4 separate regions of the Homo sapiens genome follow, and all the other regions are linked to region 3. The links come from fine-mapping of genetic effects on gene expression. A gene starts in region 3. Each other region holds a variant in brackets. All regions are shown on one strand. Distances are between the middles of the regions.

Region 1 (7,684 bases), 180 kb after region 3:
AAAATGATATTGCCAGCCAGCCATGCAGGGAGATTACCTACAGAAGCTACTCTGGCACTGACTCGAGCACAGAGGAAATAGCTGTCAAACCCACTAGCTGCTGGCTTCTTGGAGGCAGTGTTTAAAAACTATCTCAAAGTCTATGCTAAAAAATATAGAGCAGAAATTTCAGCAAGTAGATGGAGAGTTTTACTGGTCTAAGAAAAGTTTTAATGATACCTAAAAATTACAAATGGGCTAGAACAGGAAAGGCAACATTATACATCAATTAAAAAGTTAAACTGGAGTTCAGGTTGTATTCCAGAAACCGCTATTCACTTTATTTGATATTCTTTATAAGGGAAGCTTGAGGTTATTAAGTCACTGCCCTCCCAATGCAGTATTACATTTTCTGTAATCTGTAGGAAATAATATCAGGAAACTGATCAAATTCCAAGTCCCTAAATATTACCAGAACAACTTATTGATAAGAAAAAGATTATTTTATTTCTTACAGTGATAAGGGAGACATAATATGGTAGTTTCTTGGAGGAGAATGAACAAGATTTGATTTATTCAGATTTTGAAGTCTAGTTTAAGGCAGGTCTGTCAGAGCAGGGGTGAGTGCAATAGAGAGGGCTTAATTAGGATAGGGTAAGGGCTATGATAGAATATTAGGATTGGTGAAAAAAGAAAAGAGGTCGTTTTGAAGCCAGGAGCACAAAGTCTTGGGATGTGAAGACAATTGAAATTAAAGTCATGTTAACGTAGATAGTAAGCTGTGTAGGAGTAAATGGTTTCAGTTCTCAATATTAAGAGTCCGGAGAAGAGAGGATGGATTTTAATAAGTTATCGGGCCCTTTCATGAAATCCATGTGGATAAGATGGCGCAGTGTAACTTGCTTCCTTTCACGCTTATGACTAAACCTGGTGGTCCTGGTTGAAGCATCAGCCAAGTATATCACTGTCAGGATTTAAGTTCTAAGGACTGAACTGGGATGGGGCAGCAAGGAGCAGGAAGATCCAAAGTGAATTTAAACAGAATTCTTAAGCAAAGCTGAGAGTCAAGCTGAAAAATGAGGATCAATTGGGAATTCTGGAGGCAAGAGCAATGCTACAAATAAGAAAAGAGATAGGTCAGAAACAGGTCAGAAACAAAACGCAACCTAGATGAACACAGTTTGCAGCTAAATCAGGAAGGGCTTAGATGGATGTTTTCTGGGATTGGAGTTCAAGTATTTGAGGCTTTTCTGATGCCTGGTGCTTGGATAAGTCAGACTAGCTTAAAGATATAGGTTTGGAGCAGGGATCCATCCCTCATCCTACCCCATCCCCAAACCCTACCACTGCTATGTAGGCCTCTCCCAATCAAACAGTAGGTTGGGTGTGGAGCTTTCTCAAGTTTGTTTTGCATAAGACTTGGCATGTTTGAGAAGCTCTTCCAAACATGGAAGAAGAGCTACTTCCCATGAATTCATAAATGCCTCTCTAAGTCAGACCCTTACCTCTGCCTCAGGGATTGGAGTAGTCTATATCGCTGTTGGAAGTCTAGTACTTCCACTTCATGCTCTTGCTCTCTACCTCTAGTGACAGGATGAGTCACTGGACTGGAAGGCAGATTGGATCTGTATTTTTAGCCATATGGCATTCAAATATCTCTGTGACCTTGAATCAGTCCAAGAAATAATCCTCAACTTTTCATAAGCGGGGTATGGGATTTGGTGGGGTGAGGGAGGCAAACTGCTAGAGAATAGAGGAGCTGTGGATGGAGTGAACTAATGAATTGTTGAGAGATGTGTGTCTACCAGAAAACAAACCACGAGTGGTTATTATTATACGAAATTGCTGAGAAATCCTCCCCTGTCCCTCCTCTACCCTACTTACCCCAAAATCACTGAGTCTTGCTCTCATTTTTCAGGCCTCTGACATGTGACCATCCACTGATTTGCTAACTGCCTCTGTGATCTCCACTAATAATTATCCACTGAGCACTTCAGTGAGTTTTGTAACCCAGCTCTCGTGCAAGTTGGAGGACTTCATTTACTCCCTCAGTTTCATCATTCCTCCTTCTTCAGGAAAGAATCTCACATTCCAGAGCTAGCTCATGTACCCTGCTTCCTGTCCCATTATGGGTGGAGATTTGGACATTTTTGCCTAGAACCCATGATTTCAGGAGGTTCTTCTCTCCCATGTGGGGACAATGAATGTAATTTCAGCCCTTCTATTCTTACTGTGCCTGGGAAATGTCACATTAATAATAGAAATAATACAGAGTTTTGCAGATAACTGCTGTACTTACCAACCTATTGATTGCAAGAGTGGAATTCACTGGCACATGCATTGTTGCTGCTTTCTCCCCCTACAGAAAATGATGGGGTTGAACTAACACATTTCCCAACTACTTCCTACAATGCTTTTTTTTTTTTCCCTAACAGCCTTACTGAGATATAATCCACATACCATAACTTCAGCCATTTAAAGTGTACAATTCAAGGGGTTTTGCTCTATTATTCATTATTTTAAGTTGTGGTGATGATAGATAACATAAAATGTGCCATTTTAACCATTTTTAAATGTATAATTCGGTAATGTTAGTTACATTCACAATGTTGTACAACCGTCACATTATCTATTTCCAAGACTTTTTCACCAACCCAAACAAAAACTCTGTTTCCTTTAAGCAATAATTCCCCGCTCTCCTTGCCTCCAAACCATTAGGTTATCTATTCTACTTTCTGTCTCTATGAATTTGCCTATTACAGGTCCCTCATTCAAATGAAATCATATAATATTTGTCCTTTTTGTTTGACTTATTTCACTTAGTGTAATATTTTCAAGGTTCAGAACTTCATTTTTTATGATTGGATATTTTATTATATCTATATACCACATGTTGTTTACTTATTCATCTGTTAATGGACCTTGGGGTGTTTCTATCTTCTGGTTATTGTTGAATTATGCTGTTATAAACATTTATGCACAAATATCTGTTTGAATTCCTGTTTTCGGTTAGTTTGGGTATTTACCTAGGAGTGGAATATAGTAATTCAATGTTTAACTTTCAGAAAAATTGCCAAACTGCTTTACACAGCAGCAGCAGCACTATTTTACATTCCCACTGGCAATGCGCAAAGGTTCTAGTTTCTCCACATCCTCATTAATAATTGTTAATTTCTGTTGTTGTTTTATTATAGACATTCTAGTATATGTGATAGTGGTATCTCATTGTGAAAGGGGTACCTTACTGTGGTTTTGATTTGCATCTCCCTAATGACTAATGATGATGTTGAGCATCTTTTCATGTGCTTGCTGGCCATTTGTATATCTTCTTTGGAAAAATGTCTATCCAAATCCTTTGCCCATTTTAAAAGTTGGGGTTTATTTTGCCATTGTAGTTGAGTTGTAGGATTTATTTATATGTTCTGAATGCTGGGCTTTTGTCAAATGATTTTCACTCCCTTGATGCTGTCCTTTGATGCACAAAATGTTATTTTTATGACATCAAATTTACCTATTTTTCTTCGTTTATTGTGCTTTTGGTGTAATATTTAAGAAACTATTGCCAGCTAGGTGCAGTGGCTCACGCTTATAATCCCAACACTTTGGGAGGCTGAAGCAGGCAGATTGCTTGAGCCCAGGAGTTCAAAACCAGCCTGGGCAACATGGTGAAACCCCTTCTCTACAAAATACAAAAATTAACTGGGTGTGGTGGTGTGCTCCTGTACTCGGGAGGCTGAGGCGGGAAGATCACTTGAGCCCAGGAGGTGGAGGCTGCAGTGAGCCATGATCACACCACTGCACTCCAGCCTGGGCAACAGAGTAAGACTGTCTCAAAAAAAAAAAAAAAAAAGAAAAAAAGAAAAAAAAGAAAGAAGAGAAAAGAAAAGAAAACATTGCCAAATCTAAGGCTATAAAGATTTCTCCCCATATTTTCTTCTAAGAGTTTTATAGTTTTAGCTTTTAAATTTAGGTTTTTGATCCATTTTGAGTTACTTTTTGTACAGCGTGTAAGGTAAGGGTCCAACTTCATTCTTTTGCCTATGGAGATCCAGTTTTCCCAGAACTATGTGTTGAAAGACTGTCCTTGAGTGGTCTTGGGGCCCTCATCAAAAATCAACTGACCAGCTGGGCACAGTGGCTCACGCCTGTAATCTCAGCACTTTGGGAGGCTGAGGCAGGTGGATCACCTGAGGTCAGAAGTTCGAGAC[C/A]AGCCTGACCAACATGGTGAAACCCCATCTCTACTAAAAATACAAAAATTAGCGGGGCGTGTTGGCAGGCGCCTGTACTCCCAGCTACTCAGGAAGCTGAGGCAGGAGAATCGCTTGAACTTAGGAGGTAAAAGTTGCAGTGAGCCAAGATCGCGCCATTGCACTCCAGCCTGGGCGACAAGAGTGAAACTCCATCTCAAAACAAAACAAAACAAAACAATTGACCATATATGTGAGAGTTTAGTTGTGGGCTCTCAATTCTCTCCCATTTGTCTATATGTCTACTATGCCAGTAAAACAATATTTTGATTTCTGTAGAATTGTAGTAAGTATTGAAATTGTGAAGTGTGATTCCTCCAACTTTGTTCTTCTTTTTCAAGATTGTTTTGGCCATTAGGGGGTCTCTTAAAATTTCATCTAAATTTTAGGATTAGCCTGTCAATTTCTCCAACAAATTCAACTGAAATTTTGATAAGGATTGTGTTGAATATGTAGATTAATATAGGGAGCATTGCCGTCTTAACAATATTAAGTCTTCTGATCCTCAACGTAGAAACACATAGGAAAGTTAAAGAAAACATAGATTTTCTTTGCAGGAAGCTTCTTAATTACTAATTTAATCATTTCAAAGAACCAAGTTTTGAGTTTGTTGATTTTTCTCTATTCTTTTATTTTCTCTTTCATTTCTTGCTGCTCTAATCTTTATTATTTTCTTCCTTCTGCTTGCCTTGAATTTAGTTTGCTCTTCTTTTTCCAGTTTCACAGGGTGGAAAATTATGGATTTGAGATCTTTTTTCTCTTTTAATATAGATGTTTATCACTATAACTCCCTTTCAGCACTGCTTTTGCTGCTTTCCATACGTTTTGGTAGTTATCTTTACCTCAAAGTATTTTGTAATTTCCCTTATGATTTTACTTTAACTCACTGTTTATTTAGCAGTATGTTGTTTAATCTACATGTTTGTGAATTTTCCAAATTTCCTTCTGATATTGATCTCTAATGTCATTCCATTGTAATCAGAGAATATATTTTCTGTGATTTTGATCACTTTAATTTATTGAGACTTTTTTTATGACCTAGCAAATGGTCTTTCCTGGAGACTGTTCCAGGTGCACTGGGAAAGAATGTGTATTCTGCTGCTGTTGGGTGGGGTATTCTATAGATGTCTCTTAGGTCTAGTTGATTTATAATGTTGTTTATGTCTTCTGTATCCTTGTTAATTTTATCTCTAGCTTTTCTATCCATTATTCAAAGTAGGTGATGTCTTTAACAGTTATTGTTGAAATGTCTATTTCTCCCTTCAGTTCTGTTAGTTTTTCTTCATGTATTTTGGGACTCTGTATAAATACGCATACATTTATATGTGTTACATCTTCCTGAGGGATTGACCCTTTTATCATTATGAAAATGTCCATTATACCTAATGGCATTTTTGTCTTAAAGTCTATTTTGTCTGAGACCAGTATAACCCACTGTAGCTCTCCTATGGTTGCTAGTTGCATGGTACACCTTATGCTATCCTTTTATTTCAACCTATTTGTACCTTTGTCTATAATACATCTCCCTTAGACATCATGAGGCAGGATCTCATTTTTGTAACCCAATCTGACAATTTCTGCCTTTTGATTGAATTATTTAATCTATTTACTTTTATGTTATTATTGATATGGTTAGATTTATGTCTGCCATTACGCTTTTTGTTTTGTACGTGTCTCATGTCTTTCTTATTCTTCTGTTCCTCCTTACTGTGGCTGATGAGAGACATTTCACACCTTATCCACTAAGAAGAACCAAAATAGTGAGTAGATAATCACACTTTGAATAGATCATCCAAGAGAGAACACTGGAATCCAATAGAAAAGTGACAGGTAATACCTAAAGCAAGGAAGAAAAACAAAGCATGGCAGCCCGATTGGCCAGAATTAGCTAGAAACCAATGTGGGGAAAGGGTAAGTGAGAGACCCTCAGCAATCCACATTACCACCACAGACTTCTGCAATCCTAGCCACTGGAGAGTCCCATGACCCTTGTGGGCCCTAAAACTAAAGTAGGAAGCTGACAGGAGATTGTGAAATGACACTGCTCCAGGGAGGGAGCTAACATTGGGTCCCTGAGACCTAAACAGCTACAGAAAATTGCCTCACCCTCAAAAGACAGTACACTGTCCTGGAGCTCAGCAGCGCTGGGTCTGAGGCACTAGAGAAGCATGGGCTTCTGTCCCCAGGAATTAGGCACCAGCTACCATGGGCTACCACATCCCAGGCTGAGGGCTGAGATACTTCCATTGGGACTGAGGCATGAGCAAAGCACTACTTTGCTACTGCAGCAAGGGCTGAGGCACAAGTACCACCAGAATTGAAATGTGAGAGGCATGCATTTTCCACCCACTGGCCTAGGCTGCCACCACTGAGGGCAGCACCACCCTCCCTAGTAGTAGGGTATCAGTACGGCCATTGCCCAACTTCACTGCCCTCGCCCTAGCCACAATCTGGGGGCTAAGGGATCTCCCAGCCCAATCCACCACCATTGGCATCTGAACATTCCTCCCAGGCTACCTGTGGGCCTAGAGACTGGCCTGCCCAGACCATCACATTCACTACCAATGCCAGCACACACCAACCAGGGCCCAGAGAGTCATCCCACCACTGCCATCACCCTCACCATGCTGGCTTCCCAGGGTCCTGAGAACCTCCCCACCCACCCAGCCTACTGCTGCCACTACTGACATCTGAGTAAGACACATAGAGGCCCAAGAATCAGCCCACCTGGACCCCCTAAAACCAGTACAAGCATATACCACCCTGGGGCCCAAGAACAGACACACTCAGCTACTGCTGCCACCAATGGGGCCCAAAGACTGCCTTACCTGGCATCCCCATCCCCAGAAAATCTTCACTGCCTCCTCTAATAACTGCATCCTAAGCCACTGAGGAAATTACAGATACCACTGATGCTGTTTACAGCCAAATAAATCATACAAAGACTATGCTACTGCATGCACCCAGAATCAAGCCATAGTGTGTCATCAAACCAACACCTTAGATACATCTTCAGGAAAAAGTCCTCCCCTATGAAAGTAAATTCAAATAATTGGAAGAGGGACCAATTGTGTTGTCCCAATTGTGTTGTCCCAATTGTGCAGACATCAATGTAAGGACACAGGAAACATGAAAAAACAAGGAAATGTTACACCTCCAAAGGAATTCAATAATTCACCAGCAACAGATCATGATTAAAAAGAAATTCACAAGATCTCAGAAAAATAATTCAAATTATTGATTTAGATGAAGCTCAGTGAGATACAAGAGAATTCTGAAAACCAATACAGAGAAATCAGAAAACAATTCAGGATATGAATGAGAAATTTGCTAAAGAGATAGATAAATATAAACGAGAACCAACAAAAATTCTGGAACTCAATAATTTATTTAATGAAATGCAAAATACATTCAAACACTTTAACAATAGACTAGGCCAAACAAAGAAAGAATCTCTA
Region 2 (7,684 bases), 34 kb after region 3:
ACTTTCCCTTATACAGACACTGTGCTCCCATAGGAGAAGGGAGAGGGGAAGAACAATTCTATAAGGGCTGAACTTTGAATTAATGCTTACCAGGAAGAGACTATCACACATGAAAAGATGGAGGGAGAATGAAAAAAAGACTGGCCTGATAGGAAAGGTTTAGCTCAGGAGAGTCTTTTTTGCCACAAAGCAGAAGCATAAACTTTGTTGACTCATTAGTGGGTTTTAAAAAAATTTTTAATTTTTGTGGGTATATAGGTGTATATATTTATGGGGTACATGAGATGTTTTGATACAGGCAAGCAATGCATAATAATCACATCATGGAGAATGGGGTATCTATCCCTTAAGTATTTATCCTTTGTGTTACAAACAATCCAATTATACTCTTTTAGTTATTTTTAAATGTACAATTATTATTGGCTATAGTCATCCTGTTGTGCCGTCAAAGAGTAGATTTTTTTTTTTTTTTTTTTGAGACAGAGTCTCACTCTTGTTGCCCAGGCTGGAGTGCAATGGCGTGATTTCAGCTTACTGCAACCTTCACCTCCTGGGTTCAAGCGACTCTCCTGTCTCAGCCTCCCAAGTAGCTGGGATTACAGGCACTCTCCACCATGCCTGGCTAATTTTTGTATTTTTAGTAGAGGCAAGGTTTCACCATGTTGGCCAGGCAGGTCCAAAGGTAGATCTTATTAATTCTAGCTATTTTTCTATATCCATTAACTATCCCCACCTCCCCCCAGCTCCCAACTCATTAATGTTTTAAAACATAAGTTTCATGAAGTCACACCTCTGCTTAAAATCCTTCAATAGTGACATTGGCAAGATGGCTGGATAGAGATGCCTGGTATTCATCTATCCCACAAGAAAGGCCCAACACAATGAATAAACAAACTAAGGTTTGACTGGAGTGTGGAAGGGAGAGTGGTGGAGTGTGGTGGGGGAGTGGAGATGCACCTGTGGTGATCAGAAATCCAGGAGGGCAGCGAGGAAGCACTGGGCCTCTATAGCCCTGTCTCCCCCACCTGGATTGGATGTGCCCAGAGTCAGGAAGGACTTCTTATTGCAGGGAAAAGGTAAGCACAAGATCTCCACCAGCCCCCACTGGCACTGCAAAAACCTACAGTCCTTATTACAGAAGAATCCTACGGTCTTCCCAAGCCCTGAGCCCAGTTTGAAGAGCTGCTGGGTATGCAAGCAGCTACATTGCTCCAGATTAGGAGAGCAAGGTGTGCACTCCCCATTCCCCCCATCCCACTCCCTGTGGGCCAAGCTGCTGCAGCATAATGCCATCTTGAGAAAAGAGCAAACTCTGAAGCACACCCTGTTCTGGGGGCCGGTAGCCACTGCATATCTCCAGCACTGGGGCGCTCCATCCTCATTATGCCAAGCCCACACCACACGGTTGGCTGAATGCCATACGTCAGCTGCACAGAGCTTGGGCCTAGGATCAGCTGTGACTCTGGTCCTGCACAGCAAGAAAACAAACCCCTGCTTACTGCACTTCCAGCCAGATGAACAGTCTGCCAGTCCTGCCCAGGGCCAACCTGCCTTGAGCTGGCCAAACTGCTCTGCACCCTCCCACAAGAGAGAGAGGCCCCTGAGCCTCCTAGTAGCTAATATGCACCCAGGCCAGTGGAGTGGCTATGCTCCCATGCTCAGGACCGGAGAAACAGCCCCACAGCACCCCTGCCTCTGCAGACATGCCCCTGGCCTGCCTAATGGCCCTGCATTTCCCATAAAGACCTGGGAAATACTCCTTCAGGCTGCCCCCGGTAGGCACGACCCCAAACCAGCTAAGCAGCCAAGAGCCCACATCCAGGACTTGAGAAACAGCTCTGTGGGCCACCACTAGTGAACATGCCCTGGGCTGGCCAGGAAGCCATGTGCCTGCATACCAGGCCTAAGAAACAGCCCTGTGGGCCATCTCCAGCAGAAGTATCCCCAGGTCAACTGAGCAGCCACGAAGCTGTGTCATGAGCCTGAGCAACAACCCTGTGCCTGCCCCCAGACCTGTCTCCTACGCCAACACAGCAGGTGTGCACCCATGTCTCAGGCCCCAAAAACAGCCCCACAGGCCACCTCTGGTGGGCATACCTGCAGGCCAATCAAATAGCCCTGTGCTTACATCTCAGACCTACAAAACAACCCTGTGGGCCACCCACTGCAGAAACACCCCCAGGCCAGTCAAGCAGTTGTGCAGCTGTGTCCTGGGCCTGAGAAAATGTCCCATGAATCACCCCATCAGGTGTATCCCTAGGCCAGCCAAGCAGCTATGCACCCATATACCAGGCCTAAGAGACAGCCCTGCTGGCCTCTCTGGTGGGCATTCCTCCAGGTCAGCTGAGCAGCCTTACACCCATGTCCTAGGCCTTCGAGAAACAGCTCTGTGAGCCACTTCTGGCAGGCATGTCCCCAGGGTGGCCAAATAACTCATGCTCCTGGACAGAGTAATAGCCCCATGGCCCCAGCCCCAGTGAGCCAGATCCCAAGTTGGCCAACTCACCATATGCACACACATGCCTCTGACCTGAGAAACAGGCCAGTGAACCCAGCCCTGGCAAAGTTGCACCACCATTGCCACAAATTATTTCAGACTAGGCCACTGAGAAATGGCCAAATGCCACTAGTGTGGATAATGGCTGAAGAAACTACATGGAGGTTACATTACACTACTGTATCTTCCTAAAACCAAGGCCAGTACACCCCATGAACCAACACCCCAGGTCCCATTCATATAAACAAGTCTTTTCTTATGAAACCTACTCCATAAAATTGGAAGAGGTGATTTTTCCACCAAAGGCATATAAATCAACATAGGAACACACAATCATGACAAAGCAAGAAAACATGTCACCTCTAAAGGAAAAAGACAATTCTCTAGTAACAGGCCCCAATCTTGAGGAAGTAGATGAAATTCCAGAAAAAAGAATTCAAAATAACAACCTTAAGGAAATGGATTGAGATACAAGAAAAATACAGATAGACAATTCAATGAAATCAGGAAAACAATTGATAATTTGAATAAGAACTTCAACAAGAGATAGATATCATACAAAAGAGTCAAACAGAAATCCTAGAGCTAAAAAAGTCAATGAATGAAATTAAAAATACAATCCACAACTTCAATAATAGACTAGACCAAGCAGAAGAAAGAAGAAAGCCTACTAAATTTTTGGCACACTATAAAGCAAACAAGTATTTGTATTATGGGTGTTCCTGAAGTAGAAGAGAAGGGGAAAGATGAGGAAAATATATTTAATGAAATAATAGCAGAAAACTTCCCATGTCTTGGAAGAGAAATAGACGTTTAAGTCCAGGAAGCTCAAAGAATTGCAAGTAGATTCAACCCAAACAGGTTCTCTCTGAGGAACATTATAGTCAAATTGTAAAAAGCCAAAGACAAATAATTCTAAAAACAGCAATAAAAAATGTCAAGTCACATATAAGGGGCCCCACTAACAGCGGATTTCTCAGCAGAAGCCTTACAAGCCAGGTGAGTGAGGAGTGAATGGGATGATATATTCAAAATACTGAAATAAAAAAATCCTGCTAGTCAAGAATATTATAGCCAGCAAAGCTATTATTCAGAAATGAGGGAGAAATAAAATCTTTCATAGACAAGCAAAAATGAAAGGAATTCATTACCACTAGGCCTTACAAGACATGCTCAAGGGAGTCCTACATCTGGAATTGAAAAGATGATTACCATTATCAAGAAAACATGTGAAACTATAAAACTCACAGGTAGAGCCAATATACAAAGAAGAAAGAGAAAGGAATCAAAGCTTAGCACTACAGAAAACCACCCAACTGCAAAAATAAACAATAAGAGAGGTGGTAAGGAACAAAAGATATACAAAACAACCAGAAAACAAATAACAAAATGGCAGCAGTCCTTACTTATCAATAACAACATTGAATGTAAATGGACTAAACTCTCCAATCAAAAGACATGGAGTGACTGAATGGATAAAAAACCAAACCCAACTATCTGCTGCCTACAAGAAACACACTTCACCTATAAAGACACAAATAGACTGAAAATAAAGGAATGGAAAAAGATAATCCATGCAAATGGAAACCAAAAAAGAGCAGGAGTAGCTATACTAATATCAGCTAAAATACATTTCAAGACAAAAACCATAAAAAGAAACACAAACGGTCATATTATATGTTGAAAAAGGGGTCAATTCAGCAAGGGTATGTAACAAGTATTAATGTATATGCAGCCAACACTGGAGTACCCAGATATATAAAGCAAATATTATTACAGCTAGAGAGATAGACCCTTATACAATAATAGCTGGAGACTTCAACACCCCACTTTCAGACTTGGACAGGTTTATCTAGACAGAAGATCAACAAAGAAACAAAAGGACCTAATCAAAATTTACAGAACATTTCATCCAATGGCTGCAGAATACACATTCTTCTCCTCAGCACATGGAACATTCTCAAGGACAGCCCATATATTAGGCCACAAAAGAAGTCTTAAAAATTTCAGGAAAACTGAAATAATATCAAGTATCTTCTATGACCAAAATGGAATAAAACTAGAAATAATAAAAGGAATTTAAAAAACT[A/G]TACAAGCACATGGAAATTAAACAATATGCTCTTGAATGACTAGTGGGTCAATGGAGAGATTAAGAATGAAATTGCAAATTTTCTTAAAACAAACCATAATGGAAACAACATACCAAAATCTATGGGATAATCTAAAAGCAGTGCTAAGAGGAAAATTTATAGCAATAAGTGCCTACATCAAAAAAAGTAAAAAAAACTTCAAATAAACAAACTAATGATGCATCTAAAAACCTAGAAAAGGGCAAACCAAACTCAAAATTAGAAGAAAAAAGTAATAAAGATCAAAGCAGAAATAAATAAAAATGAAAACAATATAAAAAATCAATGAAATGAAAAATTGTTTTTTTAAAAGATAAACAAAATGGACAAACCTTTAGTTAGACTAACCAGGAAAAAAGAGGGAAGACCTAAACAAAATCAGAGATGGAAAAAGAGATTACAACTCATAATGTAGAAATTCTGAGGATCATTACAGACTACTATAAGCAACTCTATGCCAATAAATTGAAAAACCTAGAAGAAGCAGATAAATTCCTACATACATACAACCTACCTAGATTATATCATGAAGAAACCCAAAACCTGAGTAGGCCAATAACAAGTAATGAGATCAAAGCCATAATAAAAGTCTCCCAGCAAAGAAAAGCCCTGGACCCAATGGCTTCACTGCTGAATTTTACCAAACATTTAAAGAAGGACTAATACCAATCCTACTCAGACTATTCCAAAAAATACAAGGCCAGTATTATCCTGATACCAAAACCAGACAAAGATACATCAGAAAAAGAAAACTACAGGCCAATATGTCTGATGAACATTGATGCAAAAAATCTTTAACAAAATACTAGCACACTAAATTCAATAACAGTTAAAAAGATCATGATCAAGTGGGATTCATCCTAGGGATGCAAGGATGTTTCAACATATGCAAATTAATCAATGTGATACATCATATCAACAGAATGAAGGACAAAAATCATATGATCATTTCAATTGATGCTGAAAAAGCATTTGATAAAATTCAACATCCCTTCATGATTAAAAAAAAAAAAAAAACAAAAACAAAACTTAAAAAACTGGGTCTAGGCGGGCCGGAGCCCAGGCCCGGCCCAGCAGCACCCCCCAGGTAGACTGGGGCGAGGCCATGCCGACACAAGGTGAGACCACTGCTGGAACATCCAGTAATGGATAAAAATGAGCTGGTTCAGAAGGCCAAACTGGCCGAGCAGGCTGAGTGGTATGATGATATGGCAGCCTGCATGAAGTCTGTAACTGAGCAAGGAGCTTAATTATCCAATGAGGAGAGGAATCTTCTCTCAGTTGCTTATAAAAATGTTGTAGGAGCCCGTAGGTCATCTTGGAGCATCGTCTCAAGTATTGAACAAAAGACAGAAGGTGCTGAGAAAAAAACAGCAGATGGCTCAAGAATACAGAGAGAAAACTGAGACCTAGCTAAGAGATAGCTGCAATGATGTACTGTCCCTTTTGGAAAAGTTCTTGATCCCCAGTGCTTCACAAGCGAGAGCAAATTCTTCTATTTGAAAATGAAAGGAGATCACTACCATTACTTGGCTGAGGTTGCCGCTGGTGATGATAAGAAAGGGACTGTGGATCAGTCACAACAAGCACACCAAGAAGCTTTTGAAATCAGCAAAAAGGAAATGCAACCAACATATCCTATCAGACTGGGTCTGGCCCTTAACTTCTCCGTGTTCTATTATGACGTTCTGAATTCCCCAGAGAAAGCCTGCTCTCTTGCAAAGACAGCTTTTGATGAAGCCATTGCTGAACTTGATACATTAAGTGAAGAGTCATCCAAAGACAGCACACTAATAATGCAATTACTGAGAGACAACTTGACATTGTGGACATCGGATACCCGAGGAGACAAAGCTGAAGCAGGAGAAGGAGGGGAAAATTAACCGGCCTTCCAACTTTTGTCTGCCTCGTTCTAAAATTTACACAGTAGACCATTTGTCATCCATGCTGTCCCACAAATAGTTGTTTACAATTTATGACAGGTTTATGTTACTTCTATTTGAATTTCTATATTTCCCACGTGGTTTTTATGTTTAATATTAGGGGAGTAGAGCCAGTTAACATTTAGGGAGTTATCTGTTTTCATCTTGAGGTGGCCAATATGGGGATGTGGAATTTTTATACAAGTTATTAATGTTTGGCATAGTACTTTTGGTACATTGTGGCTTTACAAGGGCCAGTGTTAAAACTGCTTCCATGTCTAAGCAAAGAAAACTGCCTACATATTGGTTTGTCCTGGTGGGGACTAAAAGGGATCATTGGTTCCAGTCACAGGTGTAGTAATTGTGGGTATTTTAAGGTTTGGAGCACTTACAAGGCTGTGGTAGAAACAGATATCCCACAGATACCACATGTTAAACCATGTATATCTGTGGAACACTCAATCTCAATGTGCATACCCTTGACTATAGCTGCAGAAGTGTTCCTTTAGACAAAGCTGTGACCCATTTTACTCTGGATAAGGGCAGAAACGGTTCACATTCCATTATTTGTAAAGTTACCTGCTGTTAGCTTTCATTATTTTTGCTACACTCATTTTATTTGTATTTAAATGTCTTAGGCAACCTAAGAACAAATGTAAAAGTAAAGATGCAGGGAAAATGAATTGCTTGGTATTCATTACTTCATGTATATCAAGCACAGCAGTAAAACAAAAACCCATGTATTTAACTTTTTTTTTAGGTTTTTTGCTTTTGTGATTTTTTTTTTTGATACTTGCCTAACATGCATGTGCTGTAAAAATAGTTAACACGGAAATAACTTGAGATGATGGCTACCTTTGTTTAATGTCTTATGAAATTTTCATGAACAATTCAAACATAATTGTTAAGAACACGTGTATTAAATTCATGTAAATGGAATAAAAGTTTTAAGAATGGAAAAAAAAAACAACTGGGTATAGATGAGACATACCTCAACAAAATAAAAGGCATATATGACAGACCCACAGCTAGAATCATATTGAACAGGGAAAAACTGAAAGCCTTTCTTCTAAGTTCTGGAACGAGACAAGGAAGCTCACTTTAACTGTTATTCAACACAGTACTGAAATTCCTAG
Region 3 (7,684 bases):
ATGAAGCCAGCCTGGGGGCTAGATAGAAATAGGCAAGGAAACGTGTCTTCACATAAGAATTAGCATCAGCCCAAAGAACTGGTTTGAGATAGTATGCTTAAAATATTTGTTAGAATATGTATTTGAGTTTCAAGGAGGAAGAAAATCCCAGAGAATTGGATTTGCTGAGGCCAGGAAGAGGGACTGCCCTGATAAGTTCCAGCGCTGACCAGTGAGTGCATTGTTTGGCCTTAGGACCCAACAGGAAACTCCTTCGCAACCTAAGAGCTCGTAGGTGGTGACTGTAGTGAATCACTGGGGCTTTCCCTCTGGGAGACTCCTAAGCCTCAAAAAAACAAACATACAAAAAGAGAGAGAGCCAATTAGCCCACACAGCTCTGCTTCAGTGAGAGGACCCCAGTAAGATGAAGCATTTCTCAAAACCAAACAGCCAACATATATCTAAAAGGGCTTCATAAACTGTAACATGCTATCTAAATAAAAGGTTCTGTCATTACTATCATAAGGAAGGCAAAAATGTGGTCAGTTTACACTCAGAGTATATGGGCAAAAGTAATTTTGGCAGGGCACTGGCAGGAGGGCTGAATGTGGCTGCCAGAGGAGGCATAGCACAGCAGCTGAGTTTCAGTGATGCTTGGGAAAAGGCATACTCTATATTGGTTCCTGTGGATATTCTGTAATGCCATAATTTCCCCCTTACTTTTCCTACTCTTTATAGTGAATGATTAGAGAAATGCAGACTGATTCTATGTGAACTCCTCAAGGGCAAGAAACTCTCATATTTATCTAGCATAGTGCCTGGCAAGTAAGTAGCACTTAGTAAATGTAAGTGAGTCTCTGAGGGGATTGCTGGAAGAGTGGGGAGAATGGAGGGGGATGTGCTAATGGAAAAAATAATCATGTCTTCAGCTGGACACTGATGGTCTTGGTTTCTTGGTCCAAAGCTGGCAAGCAATTCCTGTCAGAATTTGGTCATTAAGATTGAGGGGTGGAGTGGATAATGATATTCCCATCAGAAATGAATAAATCAATTTGGGACATGAAGATAGCAGAAGCCAAGCAGCACTGCTGGAGAGAAGCGTGTGGGACTAAAAGATAATAGATTCTGTAGCTAAAGAGAAGGGAAACTATTTGCATGAATGTGATTCACTTAGGAACAGGTGTAGTGGAAAAAATTGCAAGGAGTCGGGGAAATGGGCCTGGGGAGGTCTTACTATCCATGTTGAAGGAAAGGAATGGCAAATGTTAGAAGAAGACAATGTTAGAAGATTGGAGAATATGTGAAAGATCAAAGGTTGAGAAATCCAGACAGTAAAATCCAGACACATTTGGGTAAGCTCAAATGAAACTGGGTGAGCCGTTCTCTCCCCTTTTATTTCCCTTTGGAGAGAGCATTTTTGAGAAGGTTAAGGCCACCTGGTGACATCTTTCGTGCACATTCTGGAATGATTTGATTTGCAGACTCATGCTGTGACTAGGGAGAGTTAGGCTGTATTCTTAGGATTTTTGAAATCTTAATTTTACCCAATGCTGGACATGGGGAAGCTGATATCCAAGGTCCAAGATTAGGGGAGAGCCTGGATCCATTTAGTGATTTTTCCAGGGTCATGAGTGGGTGTGATAATAAGCACCCTCAACAAAAGACCAATTTAGGAATAAAACCTCAATGACAAATCAATGATCTGGAACAAAGATCATATCTTCAGGTTTGGTCCTTCTGACTTTCTTTAAATATATGCCTACCTATTTATTCTGATCTGTTAAGCTGATCAGATGGGTTTGAACTGAAAGGGGGATTATAAACAACTTTACAATGGGGAGGTCCTAACCAACAAAAACCTTTGTCGGGCTTTACTCCACTGAGTTGCGCGCAAGGTAGCATCACTGAGTTAAAAGAAAAAAAATCTAACAACTGGTAAACTATGTTGTTCTGTTTTCCCACTAGCTTGGTCTCTCTCCTCACTATGTAATTCCAGGAGCCAAAGGAAGCCACTTCTGTTCAAGGAGGATTTAACTAGGTTTGACTGTGTGGAAGAAAGCAGGGAAGGGGAGCAGGAAAACCCTTCCAGAATGGCTCTAATGAATATCATTGCTTGGCCCTCTCACCACTCCGTTTTTGGACAAGAAACCAGAATCCATCCTTGGAGCTCAAAGTTGAACTCTTGGGATTCAGCTAGAATGAAAACAACGAGGGGGCGAGATGAGGAGGCAACACTATGTCTGGCGCAGACCCTTTGCGCTCCCCCTAACAGACTCCCAGTGAGCCTTCCTTGGCTCTGCACCTTTCCTGTCCTCCTCCTCCTCATGCAGAGGCACTCTTGGGCAAAAGTGTCCTGAGTGCTATCTGTGGACCATTGTCCACCGGTGCATGTAGTCAGAGGGTCACAAGGACAGTGTGGATCGTGCTTCCTAAAAGTGATCCTGTCTCTCCTTTCTCTCCTTCGAGTATTCGGTAGCAGGTAGGGTGGTCTTGGGACACTCCATCCGCAGAAGGGTCCCCCTAGATCCCCAGAGAAAGCCCTGTCAAAAACCACACCCAGAGGCCTCAATTAGGTCCAGAGCCACCCCAAGGCATCATGACAGTGGGACTGCCAGTGAAGGAAGCCACACCCTGAAATCTGGGGATTCTGTGGAAATCAGTTCCTGCAGCAATCTCATGGCCAGTTAAACTGTCCTCATCCACTTATTTAATCATCACATTTACTGAGCTTGTACCACTGCAAAACCCTATGCTCGGCAGGCACCTTAATGCAACTTATTAACAAATATCTATTCTTTCTTCTGCTGCTCCTTAGTACTTTTTCCCAAATAAAATTTGAAAAACATTTTATGATTATGTTTTTCATCAGCTTTGTGACCTTGGGCAAATTGCTAAACCTCTCTGAGTCTCAATGTTTAAAAGGGGATAATTTCACAAAGCTGTTGTAAGAGTTATATGAGATGTTTAAACATACCTAGTATACTGCCTAGCGTACTGGTGCTCAACAATCCCATACATCCTTTATTCCTTCCTTCAAAGGCCTTTCCCTCCAGGACCTGCCAAAGTCAGTTATTCCACCTGATCTTACTGCTTCCTTCCGCACGGTCAAACCTAGGGGCTCAAATCTCCTATCTTTGCTTTAGAGGCCTCACTGGTCCTCATCCTCGGCTTAGGGCCCTGTGCTCTCGCAGCAGTTTCTGTCTCCACTAAAATGCAGCGTGGAGCAACTGGGCTACCATGGAGAAGAAAAATCCGAATGGGGAAAGAGGAGGAATGGAAAGAGGCTGCAGCCCTAGAAGGCCCCCACCTCTGGGCCACGGTGTGGGGATACAAGTAAGGGCACATGGAACCCTACAGGGATCCCGGTGGAGGCCAAAGTCCTTGGAGCCGTGGGAAGTCACTCATGGATCCCATGGGAGGATCCCCCTCCCCAGTCAGAGGTTGCTTCCCACAGTTCTAGGGCACAGTCTCAGGTCCTCCTTTTCTAGGGAGCCCTCTGGGGGCTCCACCACCTCGAGGTTCCTGCGGCTCCCCTATGTTCCCAGGTGGTCTTCCATTGAGCCAGCTCCAGAGACCACCCTTGTGCCTGCTCCCACAGTGACACAGAAGGGCTCTCTGGGGCCAGTCCCCTCCACGCTGGGGCTCCCTATGGCAGCAAATGCAGACAGCGCCGCGGGAGTCCATTCCCACAGGGGGTCTTTATGGGGGCGGCTCCCCACAGCACCTCAGGGACTCCCCCAAGGCGTAGAGGCAGCAGCTACTTGGGGTTCATCCAATGACACAGGGGGGCCACCTTGGAGGCGGCTCCCACACAAGCACCTCAGAGTCCCGGAGGACTGTCCGCGGCCGCAGACCCGCCCCTCAGGTGACGGCCCGGTCCCCGCCGCCCCCGCCCCCGCTTACCGGGACCGTCCGGGTGCGGGACGCGGCTCCGGGGCGGCGGACTCTACACACCGCGGGCCCCGCGCAGCCCACGGCAGCCCGAGAGCCGGCGTGCTGGGCCGAGCGCCGGCAGCAGGCGGCGCGGGCGGAGCGGCAGGCTGAGGAGGCGGCGGCGGCGGCGGCGGCGGCGGCGGCGCGCGCGGCCGGAGCACACCCACCCGCCCCGGGGGGCTGCGGCGTGTGCACCCGCGCGAGGTGCCCTGGGCCGGCCGGTGGGCGCGCCCCGCCCCGCCCAGTCCTCTTGCGCCTCCAGGAGACGCCCTCGCGGCTCCGCGGGCGGCGGGTGACCGGCGACGGGCGCGCGGGCGTGGGGCGCCGTGGGAATGCGGGAGGACGGCGGACGGCTCCGATGAGCAGACGGCCCAGGTGCCCGTGGGCGCCCCCCACGAGCGCCCGGCACTGCGGCGCGGGGACTGCGCCAGCGGCCGACTGCGGCAAGGACAGTGCCCGCCCGGAGGAGGCGGCCCGGAGGGGGCGCCTTGGGGGCGCTGGGGCCGCTCACCGCTCGCGTTCCGCGCCGGGGGTTGGGTGGGGGGAAGGCGGGGTCCGGGTGGATGCCGCCACCAGCACGTGCCCGGGGTGGGGAGAATGACTCATCCAGCAGGGCCTACCAGCCGTCCCCCGCAGGGCTCCGGGCTCACGACCCCTGGCACTGGGGCACTCACCTTTGCAGTACCCCACTGGCCTCCGGAGGGTCCCAACGAACCTTCACATAATCCTCGGCTGGCCCAGCCTACCCTATGCGCTGTTTTCTGGGATTATTGGTTTTTCATCTCCAGCAGCGAGGCTGTGCTGTCGTGTAACCCACTTTTTGCTGCAGCAACCTCATCCCTCACAATATCCAAACAGCTAGCTTGTCAGAAGGCCAGCAATTCTGAGGGCTATAATGTGCATTACACCAAACTACATGCTTTGAAGAGGGCAAGAAAAAGATAAAATCGTAAGATAGCCAGCAACTAATTATAAGGAAAAATTGAAGATATGCAAATGATATGTCGAGAGCCCTTTAATTTATATTAATTGCACTTACATTTTTAAAATACCTTTATTTTCTTGTGCATTCAATTTATTTACCTCAAATATAATGCATGTCATTTTTTTGAGCGTCTAGTATTTGTTACATACTGTGCTAGGTACCCTGGTGCGATATAAAAAAGAAATTTTGCCCTTAACATGGAATTTACCAATAGAGGATATAAGGCAAGTATGGTATATTTCTATCACTTTAAAACACGAAGTGCCAGGTACTATTCTAAATGGTTTAAATATGTTGTCATTAATTTTCACACCATCCCTTTGAGGGAGTCTACTGTTAGTTTCGACATTTTGCCAGTGATGAAACTGAGGCAAAGAGAGGTTAAACAACTCGCCCAAGGTCACATGGCTAATATGTGATGGAGGTGAGACTGAAATTCAGGTATTCTGATTTCATACCGCAAGCTCCTATTTCTCAGTCCTGCCACTGAGAAAGGAGAGGCTATAAACCATTAATATATGGAGTTCTAAAATTAGTACTTATTAGTTCTAAAATTAGTGCTTATTTCTCAAGAGACACTATGGTTATTTTGCTTGTTGTGAAACTAGCACTAAAAAGCAGACTGAGCCTTCCATATAGTCTGGGGGTCCCCCCCTAACTTTCTTTAGAATTACATCATACCGACAGTTTCACAGATAGACTTCTCTGAACTGTTTTTAGTAAGTGTTTTATTTCTAGGCTGTCTGATGGGCTTATATGGAAAAGGAGGTTGTAACATCATCATATAAATCTCTGTCGGTTAATTCCTTCCTTCATTCAAAAAAATTTATATTGTGGCCAGGCGTGGTGGCTCACGCCTGTAATTCCAGCACTTTGGGAGGCCGAGGCAGGTGAGTCACCTGAGGTCGAGACCAGCCTGGCCAACATAGTGAAACCCCACCTCTACTAAAAACACAACAATTAGCCAGGTGCAGTGGCACGCGCCTGTGGTCCCAGCTACTCGGGAGGCTGAGGCAGGAGAATCTCTTGAATCCAGGAGGCAGAGGTTGCAGTGAGCCAAGATCGCACCACTGCATTCCAGCCTGGGTGACAGAGCGAAACTCCGTCACACACACACACAAAAGTACATTGTGTATCTGTACAATGCCAGGCATTGTGCTGAGAACTAGAAAGGGTGCAAATAAGAGTAAGACACAGTACTTTCCCTCAAAGAACTATAATCTCATAGAGGACAAGCATTGACAGAGAACCATAATCATAATACAAAAGAGAAAATCAGTGTGCGCAATAGAGGAATGAAATACAATGGAAGTTCCAAGGTGGGAGAGACAGATTACTTTATGAAGGGAGGTACTTGGGTTAAGGAATGCATAATGACCATTTAAATTATTGTTGGTATTAAAACATTAAAAGTCATATCAAAATTTATCAATTTCATTTTTTAATTACATGCAGTTTTTCTCATGTTGAGGAGAGACAGCTTTTACTACGTTATTGTTCAGAGAATGGAGAGGTTAGAAAGTGCAAACTTTTTGGAGGTAGTTTATGCAAGTGGAGGACACAGAATTATGCACAAGATAAGATTTTCAAGGTCAAAGGAATAGCAAAAGAAAAAGCAAGGTGGGATTGAATAAGGTTGGTCTGGGGGCAGCTGGGACTCTGACAAGGTGAAAGGGTTGCTAGAGAGCAGCCTGTACCACTCTTTTTTTTGAGACAGAGTCTCATTCTGTTGCCCAGGCTGGAGTGCAGTGGCTTGATCTCGGCTCACTGCAACCTCCGCCTCCCAGGTTCAAGCGATTCTCCTGCTTCAGCCTCCCGAATAGCTAGGATTACAGGCATGTGCCACCACACCTGGCTAATTTTTGGATTTTTGGTAGAGACGGGGTTTCGCCATGTTGGCCAGGCTGGTCTTGAACTCCTGATCTCAGGTGATCTCCCTGCCTCGACTTCCCAAAGTGCTGGGATTACAGGTGAGCCACTTGCGGCTGGCCCTAGCCTGTACCAACCACTCTTAACTGTCTTTACAAGGTAGGGACTGTTTTCAACTTTCTTTTCTTTTTTTTTTGCATATTCTTGGCTATGGCAAACATATGCCAAAAATATTCTGAGGTGGTCTGAGTTCAGATATTTATGACCATAAGTTTTTGGGCTTATAAGATTGACAAATACGGTTACCACCATGTTAATGTCTAGAAAGTAGAGAATATTGTTCTGGCTGGGTATGGTGGCTCACACCTGTAATCCTTGCACTTTATGAGAGCGAGGTGAGAGGGTCACTTGAGCCCAGGAGTTTGAGACCAGCCTGGGCAACATAGCAAGAAACAATCTTTCACCTCCAGCAGCGAAGCTGTGCTGTCGTGTAAAATTATGTTAAAAAATAATACTTAAAGAGAATATTGTATGCTCAACTAATATGTAATAAAAAAGGAGTTGGGAAAGGAAGGGAAGGCTATTTGATAAGTAACTAAATTCTTAGATGTTTTAATATGGTAGATAATAGAGAGCCTCTATAAGTTTTTGTTTTTGCTTTTTGAGACAGGGTCTTGCTCTGTCATGCAGGCTGGAGTGCAATGCACTATATGTGTTTTTTTCCTTATAAGTTTTTGAGCAGAGTAGTAACATCTTAAGGACCATCCTAAGCATTTAGAGTATTATCTTTTAGATAAAGGACTGAATGAGAGTGTGTATGCTCTTTTGTCTGTAAACAGATTGTAAAAGTATAAACATGAAGATGAGACTAATTTCTCTTAGGCCTTAGACAAAAACCTGTTGGGATATTAAAGAGA
Region 4 (7,684 bases), 26 kb before region 3:
CCCAAGATCCCCTTCCTTAACACCCTCAGAATCTCTAGTCTCCCCCACCCCCCATTAAGTCATTAGATCTCAGCCCCAGTGTCCCCGATGCAGGGAGCAGGCGGGGCTGCGGAGGCGGTCGCCAGCGGAAGCCGCCACTCCAGCAGACACGGTGCCTGGCGCCCACGTCACTGTCTCCCAGGCCCATCTGTGCTCGAGGGAGCGGGGGTGGGGAGGGAGTAATTTGGGGGTGAAGTGGGGGAGGGGAGTGCTGGGGGGTTGATGATGATAGAAGGGTCAGGCCGGAAGCTCCCCTTTACTTCTTTCTTTCCTATTTTCCAGAGACAGAGTTTGGACACCCATGAGGTCTTGCTAGAAACTGCAGCTTGAGTACCTGGGCCAAGAGCAGAGCAAGGCGGGGGGGGGGTGCCAGGGTCCTGGAGTCATGTCTGTAGATTCTTCACTACCTACCTTCATGCCAGGAGTCACTATGGGGCTCCCAAGGGTAAAGGGGCATGAGGTGTGAAGGAAGAAAGAGACTTGGGGTGAAAGGAGGATGGAAAGGAAGTGGGGTTGGGGGCCAGGAGGGGAGCAGAGATGGGTGATGAATGTGGGGAAATGAGCATGAGGAATTTGAGGAAATGGGGTTGAGGGGGGGAGGTAGGGAGAGGGGGTGGTGAGAGGATGGTGAGATGGGGTGAGGGGGATGAGGAGGGGAGGGGCATGGGGCAGATGAGCCATAGGGTGGGAGTAAGGAGGGCAGAGGAAAGGAGGGCTGGGGAGGGGAGGGAAGGCAGGGTGGGGGATAAGGAAAGAAGGGCTGGGGAGGGGCAGGAAGGCAGGGTGAGGGATGAGGAAAGAAGGGGTGAGTAATGAAAGGATGAGGCACAGAGATGGGGTGAGGAGGAGTGAGGAAGGGGGAGGGGAGGGAGGAGGGATGGACATCTCTGTGTGACACAGAGATGGGTAAGGTGGGGTGAGGGGCCCTGCACCGCTGCTGGCTCCTCAGATCTGGGGGCTCTCACTCTTCCACCTCCACACCTGTGGGGCCCAGGCTGTGGGTGGCTCTACTTCTTCCTATTCCAGTTCTGTCTCTTTTGCCTCCCCCAGCCTTGCCTGTGCCAACACGGAGGCAGAGAGTTTAGTCACCAGCCTTTACCTGGCCCCTGCTAATGCTAAAGTGTAGGCTCGGACCTTTGAGGGTGCAGAACTGTGCCTTCAGGTGTTGGTGGCACAGACTCCACTGTTTGCCTAGTCCTCGGTTCCCGCCCTCAGTCCCATTGTCCTGGGTGTCACGTGTGTGTAGTGCTCAGTGTGGCATGGACTGTGACAGTGTGGTCTGGAGTCTATGCACCTTGTGAGCTTACACGCCACACTCATGCCTCATCTCCTTTGTAAATGGGGATTGGTGCCTCAGGGGGTTGTTGAGAGGGTTAATTAAGGTAACACAGGTAGTGCACTTAGTTCTGAGCTGGGCATGTAGTTTATACCCAACCAATGGTTAACTTGGTTAACTCAACCAAGTTAACCATTACTCTACATGTTCACAGATGCTGGGAGTGCGAGTGCATCTATAAATCTGTGAGTCTGGGAGTTATTTGTAGTGTGGTACTGGTAATGTGATTTGTGAGTGGATCTGTGCAGTTATTTTTGTGTGGTGGTGTGCCTGATTCTGTTATATGTTGTAGGTATATGATTTTGGGTCAGTGTACATGTGTGAGTAAATGACTGTGCGGGCATGTGTCTACATGACAAAGAGTGGATAAGGTATATAGGCACTGACACATTGACACCATGTCTGCCAGCGTATGCACGCATCTGCGATCATGCCAGTCCCAAACGCCCCCACTCACCCTCCCTCCCCTTGGAGACGTCATAACCCTAGGTGTCCCTCATTTCCTCACCCTGAGGGAACCGGAACCCGTGGGCAGGGGTGGGGGTGGGTGCCAGTGAGGAGGTGTTTTAGACAGAGGCACATGTTCCCTCCCAGACTGTATAGGGAAGGGAGCCCCTATCCTGCTCACATCCCGAAGGCTGCAGAGGAAGTGCCCCCAGCCTGTTTTCAGTTCCCTGTCTTGTCACCATGGTAATGGTTGCCAGGGGTTCCCATGGTTGCTAAGATCTGGGTGTGGGAGGCTGCCAGGCCCTGTTGCCAGTAGAAACAGAGAATCCTGGGGGGAAGGAAGACTACCCTCACAGCTGCCACCTCCCTGCAGTGACAGAACTGGCCCTTGGGCCACTTCTCTCCCCCAGTTGTACCTATGAGTTGTATGTGGTAGTACTAGTGTGTGTGTGGGAGCAGGAGCGGGGGCTTTAACAGGAAACCAGAACTAGAATACTGGGATACTAGAATACTGAGGAACAGGGGGCTACTTGGCCTACCCATCACCATCCTTAAAGTTGGGAGGGCCTTACGAATTAGTGACTACCTGCCATCTCTACTAAAATACAAAAAAAATTAGCCAGGTGTTGTGGCACATGCCTGTAATCTCAGCTACTCAGGAGGCTGAGGCAAAAGAATCGCTTGAACCCAGAAGGCAGAGGTTGCAGTGAGCCGAGATCGCGCCACTGCACTCCAGCCTGGGTGACAGAGTGAGACGAGACTCCCTGTCAAAAAAAAAAAAAAAAGAAAAGAAAAGAAAAGAAAAAAAAGAAATGAGTGACTATCTCCTGCTGTCCCCTGTCCCTCATATCTCTCCCCTGGGCAGTCTCCATGTTTGTTCTTGAGTTCTCCAGTGCCTGGGTACTCATTACCTGATGCTTTCTCCTGGGTGTAGGAATGCCACGTTGACCCATCACCTTGGCTGCAGATGGCCTCCCTCCTGTGATCAGACTCTGAGCATCTCACCTGATACATGCTTCATGCTGACACTCAGGCCCAGACTTTGGTCCCACACTGAGTCCCAACTTTGACCTCAGCCTGAGACACAACCTGGTTATTGTCCTGGTAGAGACAGTTCCCCGAATCCAGCCTCTGCCCAAACCCTCCTCCTAGACATGGCTGAGCCCTAATTTTGATACAAAATACTTGAATTCATCTTCAGATTCAGTTCTGATCCTATACTGAACTAACTGAACACTACCAGGGATCTGACTCCCTGATATTCGCTGGCGTCTCCCTGCGTGTTCTGAACCTATGCTGACCAGCACCAGAAGGGTTCAGAGGGGTGATTTCTTGCCTTGGGATGAGAGAGCAATGTTAGGGATGACCAGCAGAGGG[C/T]GTGCAACATCAGGTTCTAGAGGCAAGCGTCCAAGAGCCCACCTGTGAGCTAAAAAAATTAAAGTTCTCGTTTTTGACACCAAAACTTTGGGGTTATGTGGGTTCTTACAGTCATGAATCTTCTCCTTCTGGCTCACCTGGGCTCAGCACTGGGTATGCACAGAATGTGCTTAACTGTTTACTGGCATCTCAGGTCTCAAGAGGACTGAAGTCACCCCACCCCCAAATCAGCATTTCTGTCACATGCTTAATACAGCTCCACTGCCTTCCTGGTAACCAGTTATGTTTGGTCCTATTGAGCAGAAATCTGCCTCTCCACAGTGTTCACATTTCATCTTAGCCCTGTCCTTGGGACCACACTGACCTCATTGGTCCATCTGCCAAACATCACCATCTGCATCCTTCAAATCTGCTTCTCTCCAGGACCCATGCCTTCATGGACTCATCCCCTGCCTTTCTCAATTCTACTCACTAAGATCATGTTTCCCTGAATGGGTTTCAGTTTGTGGTGCCCAGTTATGATTAGCTTTTTCCAGGAGAGCTGGTGCAGGGTACGAATGAGCCGGCCTGCCTCCCTCCTCTGACTCTGAACTTCTTTCCACATAGGCTCAGATTACATCAGTTTTTTCTGTGGTTGTTGTTTTGTTTTTCTTTTGAGATGGAGTCTCGCCCTGTTGCCTAGGCTGGAGTGCAATGGTGTGATCTCGGCTCACTGCAACCTTTGCCTCCTGGGTTCAAGCAATTCTTCTGCCTCAGCCTCCTGAGTAGCTGGAACTACAGGTGTGCACCACCACACCTGGCTAATTTTTGCATTTTTAGTAGAGACAGGGTTTCGCCATGTTGGCCAGGCTGGTCTTGAACTCCTGACCTCAGGAGATCCACCTGCTTCGGCCTCCCTAAGTGCTGGGATTACAGGCGTGAGCCATCGCACCTGGCCCATCAGTTTATTTTTTGGTAGCCACCTCATACTGTTCACCCATACCGAGTTAAGGCCATAAGCTCTTTTCTCCCTGAGCTGCTAAATCACCTCTTGTTCATGTGTACGTGTTATAATTTTGAATGGAGAGCTGTATTCATTTTAAACAAAGATACTTGAAATAAAATAAATTTGTTGGCAATACATTCTCAATTTTAGGACAATCTTTGGGCTTGGAAATCTCTGTACTTGATGGTTACTCAAAGGTGGGACAAGGAGGGACTGAAGGTCCTCAGCTGGCTTGGCTATGACTTCAGCACTTTGGACAGAGGCAATCACAGTACCCACCCCACCCCGACCCAGCTATGCCTGGGACTGTGTGAGTGTGGAGATGATACACTCACAGCCTTCAGATGGAGCAGAAATCCTTGCTACTTACTCAGTGCCTTACAATCTGTAAAGCTCTCTCCTCTTATACAAAACTCTTTCCTCAATTAACCAGCCCAGGAGGCTTACAGGACAGGGACTGTCCTACAGATTTTACAGTCGAGGAAACTGAGGTTCAACAAAGTCAACCTCCAAGCAACCCTTAGAAAGGGTGGGGTGGGAGAGAGCACTACTCCATGTTTAGCAAATTTAGCAGCCATTGATTCTCTTAAGGAATGACTCTCCCCAGGGATAAAGAGGAAATGAATTTGAACCAGAGCAGGACAAGGTGGGTGGAGGTTTGTGTAGAACCAAGACCCCGGCCAGTCCTGGGAACAAGTGGCAGTTGGTGGGAGGAACAGTCCTCAGAGGGTCTAAAGTTCCAGCCAGGACTGCTGAACTGAGGGCAGGGAAACCTTATTCATTCGGGCCCACAGACACCCAGCCTTTTTATGCCCTTTTTCTGTCCCAATGCTTAGCTTCACTGAGCCTGGAGACAAGGACAAAGGGCTGGTGGGATGTCATTAATCTGCTCTCAGTCTGGTGGACCCCATGGGAAGAATTCAGGGAGGAGAGGTGTGGGAGCCTGGTGAGCGGATGGAGTGAATTGTGCAGTGGTAAGAAATCCGTGCCATGGATACAGGCCTGGTTACCTGTCTGTGTCTATTCCCAGGGTGGGGAGGGGAGGTGCTGGCTCACACAGCAGTGGTTCCTTTGAGATGTGCTTTGACAGGAAGCACAACAAAGTGGCTAAGAACATGTCCTCTGAAGGCAAACTGCCTGGTTCCCCTACTTCCTGTGTGGTTGTGTAACCTTGAGAAACATGGACTCTCTGTTCCTCATTTTTCTCACCTGTAATAAAAATCTCATAGGATTATTGTGAAGATTAGTGACTCTATGCAAAGCACTGCCAAGTGCATAGTAAGTGCTCAAAAAATGTTAAAGACGACTTGTACTTGGGACCCTCTCTGGTTTTGGAGGTAGAGTATCGGCCTTTGATCCACAGCCTAGAGATGCTGTCTCACCTACAGGTACTGACTCTGTTCTCACCAGATAAAAGGGAGGAATGGGGATCCCATAGTCCCCCAAATGGCATCTCCAATCTTAGCTTTCCCAACCCTATCATATTACATTAAAGCAATTTGTCAAAATGGGGAGGAAACACTCAGACCAGGAGAAAACAGCCAATGAGTTTCCTTACTTTTAGCTCAGGAGGAACTGGGAAGTGTCTAAAACTGGCCCTGGGGCATGGCACAGGAGAGGGACAACACAGAGCAGACAGCCTTGGAGACCTTATGACCTCATCCTCAATTTCTTTGAAAGCTCTGGCTCTCCACTTCAGTGCTCCTGTTTCTGCTCTGTATCTGTGCTGGATACAGAAATATCAGTATCTCTGTATCTGTATGTGTGGTGCCCCTACCTCTACCCATCTCTTGATTTTTGGGAAGGTCAGGGCCAGGAGAACTCTAGAAAGAGTCACAGCATGTTGTGTCCTTCCTGGCAGCTGCAGCTGCCCCGGTCTTATGCTCAGACCCAGGAATTGATCAACAATGGGAAACCACACAGAAATGGCAGGTTCCCCAAACAACAAGAAACAGGAAGCCGACAGAGCATCGCAATCGCTTTATTATGATTTCCACTGTGCCCAGCCTCAGGGCATCAGCTTCTTCTGGAGCGCTGTGAAGGCTGGGCCACGCAGAGGAGCATGCAGCTGTAGAGACAGGGAGACAGGGCTTGGGGACGTTCCCCTCAGCTTGCTGTCAAGTTACCTTCTGCAGAAAAGCACATGGGAAGGGCATGAGGGACCAGAGCGCATTGGATTCCCAAGTGTTGCTCAAGTGTTCTCAGAGTCCCTCTCACAAACTTGGGTTTGGCTGGGGGACAGATCACAGGCCAACCCATGATGGCAGGAGGCTAATCTTGAGGGCCTTTGTGTCACCATGGCTATGAAAAGGCCTGGCTACTTATAACTTGATGTTCTTAACTGTGGGTTGTGCCTACCCAGTGCTATAGAAACTGGAATGTGATTGGGCTTCTTAGTCACTGGCCCAGACCAGAGCTGACCCCCTTTCCATGCTCTGGGTCACTGGGGCATGTGGCCCAGAGGAAAAAGCTTTCCCTTAGTGCTAGCCGAAATTCTGTAACCTGTTTATTTTCTTTCCAAGGTTGCCAAAAATAGTGGTAGCAGAAAAGTAACAGCAGAGAAAATGCCCAGTCCCACCCTACACCAGGGCTGAGCTGTCAGGAACAGGCACGATGCGTGAATATCCCCCACTCCAGGAGATCTCGCCATTGTCTGGGTTGCAGCCAGGGGCCCAGACAGATATCCTGGGCAAATTCAAACTAAGTGGTAGGAGAAAGTAGCATTTTTTCAGATAAGAGCTTGAAATAAGGAAAATTAAAAAAAAAAAAAAAAGAAAATAGGAATTTTATTTCACTGTAAATAGAGGAGGGGTAAAAAGGGACTGTGGTGACAGTCCTGAAGTTCTGGCATCAAAACTGTTCTGCCTTTTAGGGCCACACATCTGTCTGTCTTCACTCTGCTGGTCTGAAGGGAACATGCTTTCAGGATCACTAGAGCCAGCTACCAGTTCTCAGTCCTGCTTGAAGTTTCTCTTGGCTCTGGGGTGGGCCTGGCTGGCCTGGGGCCTTGCCAGGCAGCTTCTGCTGACCTTCCCTCTTGGCTTTTGGGCTTCCTGGCACCACTCTGACTGAAGCTGTGAAACCTGCAATGGCCGAGGTTGTGCTTTGGGCTATGAGTCCTGGGTATAACCTTGGGGCTCACTCCCCCAAGGAGGTGTCCTCTTCCCAGGCAGTTTAATGCTGTGTTTTTCATAATGGTGACAGGAATAAGGGGACCCTAAGACTTGGCCACTTAAGCAAGGTCAGGGTGACATCCCATAGGGAGCAGCAGGACCAGAAAGGCTGGTATCTGCCCTGCTAGCCCCAGGTACTTGGGCTGAGGGCAGAAAGAGGCAATGTCCTCATGGTTTCTACTGTAGGTGTCCTCAAATGAAGAGGAGCACTTGAAGGTTAGATCAGTACCTAGAGTGAGGGGACTGCTCCATCCCTGGGATACTCTAGGGGCCCTTGCTCAAGTGTTCTGTTGGGGAAGGCTGGGCTCAGGAGAGGAAGCCAAGGAG

Evidence for each region. PIP is the estimated chance that this variant, and not a neighbour inherited with it, causes the effect.
Region 1: its variant is the best candidate, but not a certain one, in a credible set for the expression of PHF24 in whole blood (TOPMed, PIP 0.88).
Region 2: its variant is the best candidate, but not a certain one, in a credible set for the expression of PHF24 in whole blood (TOPMed, PIP 0.84).
Region 4: its variant is the best candidate, but not a certain one, in a credible set for the expression of PHF24 in whole blood (TOPMed, PIP 0.65).

What each region holds. Positions count from the first base shown.
Region 1 is chr9:34,776,444-34,784,127 of GRCh38, reverse strand. It overlaps a transcript of PHF24 not described here. Among named protein-coding and RNA genes, the nearest start is that of SPATA31F1, 51 kb to the right of the region's middle. The variant C/A (reference allele first, on the strand shown) is at 4,188.
Region 2 is chr9:34,921,009-34,928,692 of GRCh38, reverse strand. It overlaps a transcript of PHF24 not described here and the pseudogene YWHAZP6. Among named protein-coding and RNA genes, the nearest start is that of SPATA31F3, 29 kb to the right of the region's middle. RefSeq lists enhancers at 1,373-1,893, 1,894-2,415. The variant A/G (reference allele first, on the strand shown) is at 4,587.
Region 3 is chr9:34,954,601-34,962,284 of GRCh38, reverse strand. PHF24 (PHD finger protein 24) reads right to left here and starts at 4,000. Exons shown (of 8, transcript NM_015297.3): 1 at 3,884-4,000. RefSeq lists a silencer at 3,873-3,952 and an enhancer at 5,302-5,441.
Region 4 is chr9:34,981,010-34,988,693 of GRCh38, reverse strand. DNAJB5-DT (DNAJB5 divergent transcript) reads left to right here. Exons shown (of 2, transcript NR_109756.1): 2 at 2,757-3,284. It overlaps PHF24 (PHD finger protein 24), which reads right to left. Exons shown (of 8, transcript NM_015297.3): 8 at 6,150-7,684. Among named protein-coding and RNA genes, the nearest start is that of DNAJB5-DT, 4.5 kb to the left of the region's middle. The variant C/T (reference allele first, on the strand shown) is at 3,200.